Linked DNA regions of Homo sapiens. The gene in region 2 interacts genetically with the main gene of each other region. Each region holds a gene or a part of one and is shown on either strand. Other genes may lie near its edges.

Evidence for each region.
Region 1: changes in TRAPPC11 (region 2) and VPS45 together harm fitness less than expected from each alone (positive genetic interaction), as found in Homo sapiens cells (one large-scale study listed by BioGRID).

What each region holds. Positions count from the first base shown.
Region 1 is NC_000001.11:150,139,754-150,143,302, forward strand, and holds part of VPS45 (vacuolar protein sorting-associated protein 45), read left to right. Parts: intron 1-3,084; coding exon of another isoform or gene 3,085-3,178; intron 3,179-3,549. UniProt on the Homo sapiens protein: May play a role in vesicle-mediated protein trafficking from the Golgi stack through the trans-Golgi network.
Region 2 is NC_000004.12:183,661,493-183,667,037, forward strand, and holds part of TRAPPC11 (trafficking protein particle complex subunit 11), read left to right. Parts: intron 1-2,354; 5' UTR 2,355-2,375; coding exon 2,376-2,579; intron 2,580-4,764; coding exon 4,765-4,934; intron 4,935-5,545. UniProt on the Homo sapiens protein: Involved in endoplasmic reticulum to Golgi apparatus trafficking at a very early stage.

The DNA.
Region 1 (3,549 bases), on a different chromosome or scaffold from region 2:
TTGTCCAGGCTGGTCTTGAACTCCTGGACTCAAGCAATAGGATTAAAAATATCCTCCTGTTTCGGCCTACCAGAGTTCTGGGATTATAGGCGTGAGCCACCATGGGCAGCCAGTCACTAGTTTTATTTTATTTTTGTTGTTGTTGTTGTTGTTGTTTTGAGATGGAGTCTTGCTTTGGTGCCCAGCCTGGAGTGCTGTGGTGCAATCTCAGCTCACTGTAACCTCCGCCTCCCAGGTTCAAACGATTCTTGTGCCTCAGCCTCCCAAGTAGCTGAGATTACAGGCATGCACCACCACGCCTGGCTAATTTTTGTATTTTTAGTAGAGACAGGGTTTCACCATGTTGGTCAAGCTGATCTGAAACTCGTGACCTCAAGTGACCTCAAGTGATCCTCCCGCCTTGGCCTCCCAAAGTGCTGGGATTACAGGCGTGAGCCACCGCACCCAGCCCAGTCACTAGTTTTAAAATCTCACACCACTACCATCTCCAATACTCCTTTTTTAAACCTGCTTTATCTTTTCCCATAGTATTTCTTCATCTAACATATTACAAAGAGGCAGTATAGCATTATAGTTAAGAAGACAAACTGAAGCCAGATTGCCTGGGATTATATCCCAATTCCATCACTTCTGGTGTGTGTGTGTGTGTGTGTGTGTGTGTGTGTGTGTGTGTGTATTTAAAGTGGAATGGTTTCTGTCCATTAGAGCAGTACTTTGCATATAGTAATATGTGTACACCATTATTATTGTATTATTATTATTAACTACTAATTAATTTTATTTTCCTTCTCTCCCATTGGAATATAAATTCCATGAGAGCAGAGGGGTTTTTTTTTACTTTCTTCATTGCTGTATTCACAGCTTCTAGAACAGTGCCTAGCACATAGTAGACACTCAGTAAATATTTGTTGATCAAATTATGTTATTTCTGGAGTGATGAGGATAAGGAGGGTCAAGGAAGACAAGGTATATGTTTAGAACTTTTACAAAGAGAATGTACTCATGTATCCTTGTGCCCCTAAAAGCTTCATAAGCTTGCATGGAAAATGGACATACAGACAAATAAATTACAACACAGTATATTTACAAGATATGGAAGAATGAGTACGTAACTCTAAGGGGAAAGCAATGCAGTTGAGGAAAGCTTCCTAGAGGAGTAATAATGTGAGAGTTGGGTTTTTAAAGATGCATAGTTCCACCAAACAAAGTGTGAGATGGATGGGACAGCCTTTGAATAGCAGGTGCAAAAGCAAAGAAGTATGAAACATAGCAGTGGCTCTGAAAACTGCAAGCCGTGGAAGTTGAGAGGTGAGGAGCATTTTCAGTGTTTTAAGCTATTAATAATTTCATCTTATCCTTCTGCCTTACCCACTCCCATACTCCTAACTTCTCCAAGTAAGTGTTTGGCTGTAATTAGGAGCTTATTACTCCATTAAGACAAATATCTTGGGGTTTTTCTCATTATTTTCCTGAAAGTCTTTTTCTATTTTTCTGCTCCCCACAAGTTCTATTTTTTTAATTATTATAACACTATTCAGGTTCTAGATTCCCCTTGGTGTCTTTGGTATAAGAAATTCACATGTAATTTTTACCTGTGGAGTATAGTGAAAAAGGAGGAAGACATATCCTTAAATTATATACACATACACACACATAGTTTTTGTTACAGTATGATAGCTTTGTTTAGGAATAGAAACACAGTTGTTCAGCTGAATTATTTTAGTAATTAATATTTTTAATCCTATAAACATTGGTCTCTAGTCCCTTACCAGTGATGTAAGTGGAGAAGCTTGCTTTTCAGTGTGTGACTCAAGACTTCTCAAGGTTGACTTTTTAAAATCAGGGTTGGGGTTCTGCTTTTTTCCACCCACCTTCCTTCTATACATGGAGTCAGGAAAACACCCTTGATGACAGCACAAACTAAAAAAAGCAGTAGCATTAATCCACTCTGTTAGTTTCTGGCACTGCCTCTGTTTATACTCATATTGGATTGTGATTGTGTATCTGTCTCTGAGAGTCCCTTAAGGTAGGAATCATAACTAAGGTGTACATTTGTACACCTAGTTCAACACCTAGTTCATAATGGATGCTCATTAAACATTTGTTGAATTGGATTGAATTGAACTGAATTGAACTGGACTATGGCACCAACGGAGAAGGGGATTTTTGAGTTTGCTTTTAAGTGAGATTGATTTAAAATGAATTTAGAAAGAAAAATTATTCTTTTTGTTTTGTTTTTAAACATAGTCTAAATTTGGGGTACAGCTAGCAATATGTTCATTCGCCATAATTTTTTAAGCATTCTGAGCAATGACTCATTAGAGTCCCCAAATAGTTTTTTTTTAAGTCATAGTGGCCCTAGGAAACAAAATTAGGCTGGTAAATATAAATAGTAAGTGTGTTCTCATTATAGTCAGGAATGTGGGGTCTTGTTGATATACAGAGGAGGATCTTTATTTCTTCCCTTTGTAGCAGAGTTGGAAATGAACCAAAGATCCCCTGATAAAATTCCTATAGGGCTTCCCAGCACATTTATTTCATTCTTTCTAGAAGTCATCAAGACTTATTGTGTTATTGTTCAAAAAAAAATCAGTGCTACCTCATTTCCTAACACTTGTTTTCTGACCTCCAATTGTGTCTAGTCCAACTGGCCAAAAAGCCAGGCCAAAGATGTCTGTATTTCCATAGAGGAACAAATGAACTTAGCTTCTACTCCTTTCCCTCTACTTTGCAATTTTTTCTTTTGCAAAGGAGTTTGGAATTTAAATTCTCCAAGCCCAGAATCTTTCAATGCAAGATGGTAATAAAACTGCAAAACAATGGTAATAACTGGTCATTCCTCCAGTCCTCTGTCTTTTAAATATCTGTCTGCTCTGAGAGAGAGTCCTGAGCATCCAAATAACTTGTTGTTGTTGCTGTTGTTGTTGTTGAGACAGGGTTTCACTCCTGTCGCCCAGGTTGGAGTGCAATGGCACAATCTTGGCTCACTGCAACCTCTGCCTCCAGGCTCAAGCAATTCTTCTGCCTTAGCCTCCCAAGTAGCTGGGACTACAGGCACCTGTCTAATTTTTGTATTTTTTATAGAGATGGGGTTTCACTATGTTCCCCTGCCTGGTTTCGAACTCCTGGGCTCAAGCGATCCACCCGCCTCAGCCTCCCAAAGTGCTGGGATTACAGCGTAAGCCACTGCACCCGTCCATCCAAATAACTTTTATATTATAAAGAAGGCTGTCTTGCCAATGGGTAGCTATTTTATTCATTTACTCAGCATAACTTTATTGGATACCTCTGTGTTAAGCCCTGGAGATCTAAGGTGAGTAAGACTTCCCCCTACCTCCCAAGAAGCTCACAGTCTGTCTTGGCAACAATTATACAGTGCTAAGATAGGAGTGGGATAAAGTAATAACAGTAATTAGTTCAGCATGGAGGGGTCTGGAAGGGCTTTACAGAAAAAGTGACTTTTATGATTATGTATTTATGTATGTATGTATGAATGAGACCATGCCTGGCCAGAAAAGTGACTTTTAATCCTTAGTCTTGAAGAATAAG
Region 2 (5,545 bases):
TCCCGAGTAGCTGGGACTACAGGCGCCCACCACCATACTCGGCTAATTTTTTGTGTTTTTAGTAGAGACGGGGTTTCACCATGTTAGCCAGGATGGTCTCGATCTCCTGACCTTGTGATCCGCCCGCCTCGGCCTCCCAAAGTGCTGGGATTACAGGCGTGAGCCACCGCGCCCGGCCAGATTACCTTTTAAAAGAGCCTCATGACACATTCTTTTTCAAATAAGATTATATTTAAAATGTAGTGATAATTTTGTTTGGAATAACTTTTTTTTTTTTTTTTTTTTTTGTGGCACAATCTTGCTCTGTCACCCAGGCTGGAGTGCAGTGGCACAATCATAGTTCACTGTAACTTTAAACACCTAGACTCAAGTGATCCTCCCATCTCAGCCTCCCAAGTGGCTGGGACTACAAGTGAGCACCACCATGCCCGGCTATTTTCTTTTTTATTTCTTTTAGAGACAGGATCTCACTATGTTTCCCAGGCCAGTCTTGAACTCCTGGCCTCAACAATCCTCTGGCCTTGTCCTCCAAAAGTGCTGGGATTATAGGCATGAGCCACTTGTGCCTTACCTGAATTCTCTGTAATATGCTGGTATAGATTATCTTTTAAAAGAACCTCATTTGGGAGGCCAAGGCTGGCAATCGCCTGAGGTCACGAGATCAAGACCATCCTGGCCAACATGGTGAAACCCTGTCCACTAAAATACAAAAAATTAGCTGGGTGTGGTGGTGCATGCCTGTAGTCCCAGCTACTAGGGAGGCTGAGGCAGGGGAATCACTTGAACCCGGGAGGTGGAGGTTGTAGTGAGCTGATATTGGGCCAGTGCACTCCAGCCTGGTGACAGAGTGATACTCCGTCTCAAAAAAAAAAAAAAAAAAGAACCTCATGTTGTTACATCCTTTTGCAAGTAAGATTATATTAAAAATATAATGACAGTCTTGTTCGGGATAAACATAGTTTTATATACTTATAAAGTCAGGGCATACGTTAGATTTATTATGGACTGATTCTTAGCTAAAGGACGCAGTGGAAACATCCTCCGAGAGGTTTCCATTCATTGTTAGTTTTTCCCTTACAGATTTTTCTTTAAAGAGTAAATTTTATATTGTGGGAAATGAGACAACATAGCTACTATTTAGATAATTACATAAATTAAAGGCTATTTTAATAATATCCTAGGTATTCAGAAATTCAATATTAGCAATTACAGAGAAATTAGGGGAAGTTTATTATATGTAAGTCAACTGTTTTTCTTTTATATTTTTCTTTCAATATATTTTTCTTTTATAGTTGAAATAGATCATGTAGATCTATTTTAATTTTATCACCTTCTTGCTTTCTTGGTCTACTAATTTCAAAGTTCTGTGTGCATTTTGAGACATTACTGAAAATGCCGATTTGTCTTAAAGTTGACTTCATTTTTAACATGAAAGATTTTTTCTTAAATGTCATATAGTTATTACATTTTAATAGATCTAATTCAGGAATTAAAGTTTTCCCTTTTTCTCTCTTCTGTTTGTTTGACAGTTTGCAGATACTCAAAGCCTTTTGCCTTTTTGTAATGATTATTTTATTTATTTTATTTTTTTTGAGACAGAGTCTCACTCTGTCACCCAGATTGGAGTGGAGTGCCGTGATCTTGGCTCACTGGAGCCTCCGCCTCCTGGGTTCAAGTGATTCTCCTGCCTCAGCCTCCAAGTAGTTGGGGTTACAGGTGTGTGCCACCATGTCCAGCTAATTTTTTGTTTTTTGTTTTTGAGACAGAGTCTCCCTCTGTCATCCAGGCTAGAGTGCAGTGGCGCCATCTTGGCTCACTGCAACCTCCACCTCCCGGGTTCACGCCATTCTCCTGCCTCAGCCTCCTGAGTAGCTGGGACTACAGGCGCCCACCACCACGCCCGGCTAATTTTTTGGATATTTAGTAGAGACAGGGTTTCACCGTGTTAGCCAGGATGGTCTCGATCTCCTGACCTCGTGATCTGCCCACCTAGGCCTCCCAAAGTGCTGGGATTACAGGCGTGAGTCACCACGACCAACCAATTTTTTGTATTTTTAGTAGAGACAAGGTTTCACTGTGTTGGCTAGGCTGGTCTTTAACTCCTGGCCTCCAGTGATCCACCTGCTTCGGCCTCCCAAAGTGTTGGGATTGTATGCGTGAGCCACCATGCCTGGCCTTGTAATGATTATTTTTTTGTAATGATTTTTAAATAGAGATTCATATATTGGAAATGAATATGAGTTGTTTTTTTTTTTTTTTTTTTGAGACAGAGTTTTGCTCTTGTTGCCCAGGCTGGAGAAATGAATATGAGTTTTTAAAAATTAATTATGAATGTATTAACATTTGTATTTCAGGTTTTTTGTGACATCGTAAACATGAGCCCCACACAGTGGGACTTCCCTGTGGAATTATGTTGCCGGCCTATGGCCTTTGTTACTCTAACGGGCCTGGATGTAGTTTATAATGCAGTCCATCGAGCTGTCTGGGACGCCTTCTGTGCAAATCGGAGAGCTGATCGAGTACCAATTTCTTTCAAGGTGCTCCCAGGTGACCATGAGTATCCCAAATGTAGACCCAAGGTAATGGCATTGTGATGGCATGTGTTCTTTCCTTCTCTCTCTCTATGTGTGTGTGTGTGTCTTTTTTGTTCTGTTGTGTGTGTGGAGTTTATCAAGACAGTGGTCACAGTGGTGCATAAAGAAAGCCTTAGGCATTTTCATGTAATACACTGCATGTATATTTAATAATAGTTCTTTTTTTTTAAACTCCAGAGGAATAATTACTTTATAAAGCTTTCTATCCTATGAGCCCAGGTTTTCCCTTTTTTGTTTTTAGGAAAAAACCCAACATAGTCCCCTCTAAAAGGAAGGTCTTGCATTCCCCACCATCATTACTAATGTCGTTTTTGAATCCCATGGTCTGTGCAATGTGGCTCAATTTCACAGATTTTTTGAGCACTTGCTTTGTGATAGGTACCTGGAACCATGCAACAAGCTAGTGATACGAATTTAAGTGAGACAGGTTCCCTATTCTTGAGGAGTTTTACATAAACTAACACAGTTTATTCATTGCGGAATGAAGAAAGGTATTAAGTTCAAAACTGACTTTTAAGGTGAACGACATAGTAAAGACGACTTTACCTTAGATAATAATTATTATCATGATGATAGTATCACTAATAGCTAACATAGTTGTAAAAAAACAGTAAAACAGTTTACTGTTTTAAGCAGTTTATGTGTAGTGATTTGTTATTTATCATAATCTTATGAGGTTGGTTTGAAAGTTAGGTGATAAAACCCTTTTAGTTCTGACCCCTATCCTTTTTTTTTCTTTTGCCCTAGAGCAGTGTCTCTGACATAGTAGTCTCTGGACCAAGTATGTCATCATAACCTGGGGTATTTATTAAAAATGTAGATTGCAGCCCTCCTCTTTGGTTTCTGGGAATATAGGACTTGGTCACCGGCTGATTATTTTTGTGTGTGTTTGAGAACCACACGACAACATTTCATATACTCAGCCCTGGAAACTGAGCTCTCTGAAATTGTGCAAGTAATAGCATCCCAGCCCTGGCCCTCACACGATTATTTTTCTTTTCTTTCTTTTTTTTTTTTTTTTTTTTTGAGACGGAGTCTCGCTCTGTCCCCGAGGCTGGAGTGCTGTGGCGCGATATCGGCTCACTGCAAGCTCCGCCTCCTGGGTTCGTGCCATTCTCCTGCTTCAGCCTCCCGAGTGGCTGGGACTACAGGCGCCCGCCACCACGTCCAGCTAATTTTCTGTATTTTTAGTAGAGACGGGGTTTCACCGTGTTAGCCAGGATGGTCTCGATCTCCTGACCTCGTGATCTGCCCACCTTGGCCTCCCAAAGTGCTGGGATTACAGGCGTGAGCCACCGTGCCAGGCCTACATGATTATTTTTCTTTAGTGTCATGTTTGTGTCAAGAAGGCAGGGAGCCCAGCACAAGCCCTCTTTTCTCTTAATGCTCGAATTCAAGCTGCTTTTCATTTCTCTATTCCCAGCTTTTGGCTGAGTCCCCATGTTATTTTGTGTCAGACTTCCTTATTGACCTCATCTTTCCTTGCTGGAGGTAGACATTGGATCACCATGAAGTGGAGTAGTCTGAGCCAGCACAGCTGATTTGGAAGGAATGTGAGGTTTCAACTGCATCCCTCAGGGCTAACACTCAAATCTACAGCATCCTCTTCCCACTCTGTGGCACTCAGTGCCCAGACTCAAGTGGCTGCTGTGAAGCTTCTGTTTAAGAATTGTTCTCTGCTTTGTACTTCATCTACAAGTGAGGTGAAATGCATCACAGCAATATGTCTTTGAAATAAACAAAGCCTATTGGATTTTAGATAATATTTTATTTGAGCAGTTTTACAAGAACAGAAGCTGGAATGGTGAAGAATATAAGTAGAATTTACCTGGAAATGGGCTACTTTTTTTTTTTTTTTTTTCTTTAGCAAAGTATTTGAGACCCTTGACATCATTAGACATGCATCATCGTTTTATGCATTCAGTTATGGGGCTGATAGAAACTCTTTGGCTTCAGTCATTCTTTAAATGGGAAGTATAGCTTCTCCAGGGTTGAGATTCCACCTTCAACACTTACTAGTTCTTACTGAATCTGTAAGCCTGAGTTTCCTAATCAAAAATGGGAGGTGTGTATATTGAATGAGATCAATGCACATAAAGTGCTTGGCACTCAGTAACAGGTGGTTTCTGCTCCTGTCAGGTAACTTTTCAATTTCTGCCAATGTTTGCAGAGAACTTCATATGAGTGGTACATTCCTAAAGGGATCTTAAAGACTGGCTGGATGAATAAGCATCTGAATCTGGTGCCAGCCCTGGTGGTTGTGTTCTATGAACTGGACTGGGATGAGCCTCAGTGGAAAGAAAAGCAGTCTGAGTGCGCCACCAGAGTGGAAATAGTCAGGTATGATCTTCTGTGTCAGGGCAGCTATGTCAGTTTGCACATGTGTGTTATTCACTAACATTCCTTGAAGGCAATGGAGTACCGTTCAGACTGCAGTGGTCACTTTGCGGATTGACCTCCAGTGAATCTTGTTCACTTCCTCACAGGTAGCATAATTATTGACTGTATATAATGCTGGGTACGTGAAGAAATTTAGAAGACTAATTGGTCTGAATTTCCAAATGTTTTTCTTGTATTATCTTTTTTGGAGACATAGTAATTTACTGTTTAGTCTCTTAAAACGCTTTGCTTTATCACTGTTTAAGTTTCAAATAATTAATTCTTTTGGATGACTACTCTGCAGTGTATCACCATAAAGAAGTAAGTTGCATTATAACTTTTACGTAAAAGTATACATTAATCTTTTGCTTTTAAGGAAGATTTTTAAGATTAGAAGATGTGAGATCATACTTTTAGAATTTAAATCATTGTGACATATATGTGCTTTGTGTGCAGGAAAAGATTTCTTCTGATCTTGGTTTTTTTAGTTGAAATTTATCTTCGGTTGAATGACCAAGGTTGTATTTTATGTGAAGTCATGAATACATTTTTTAAGTTAAAATAATTAATTT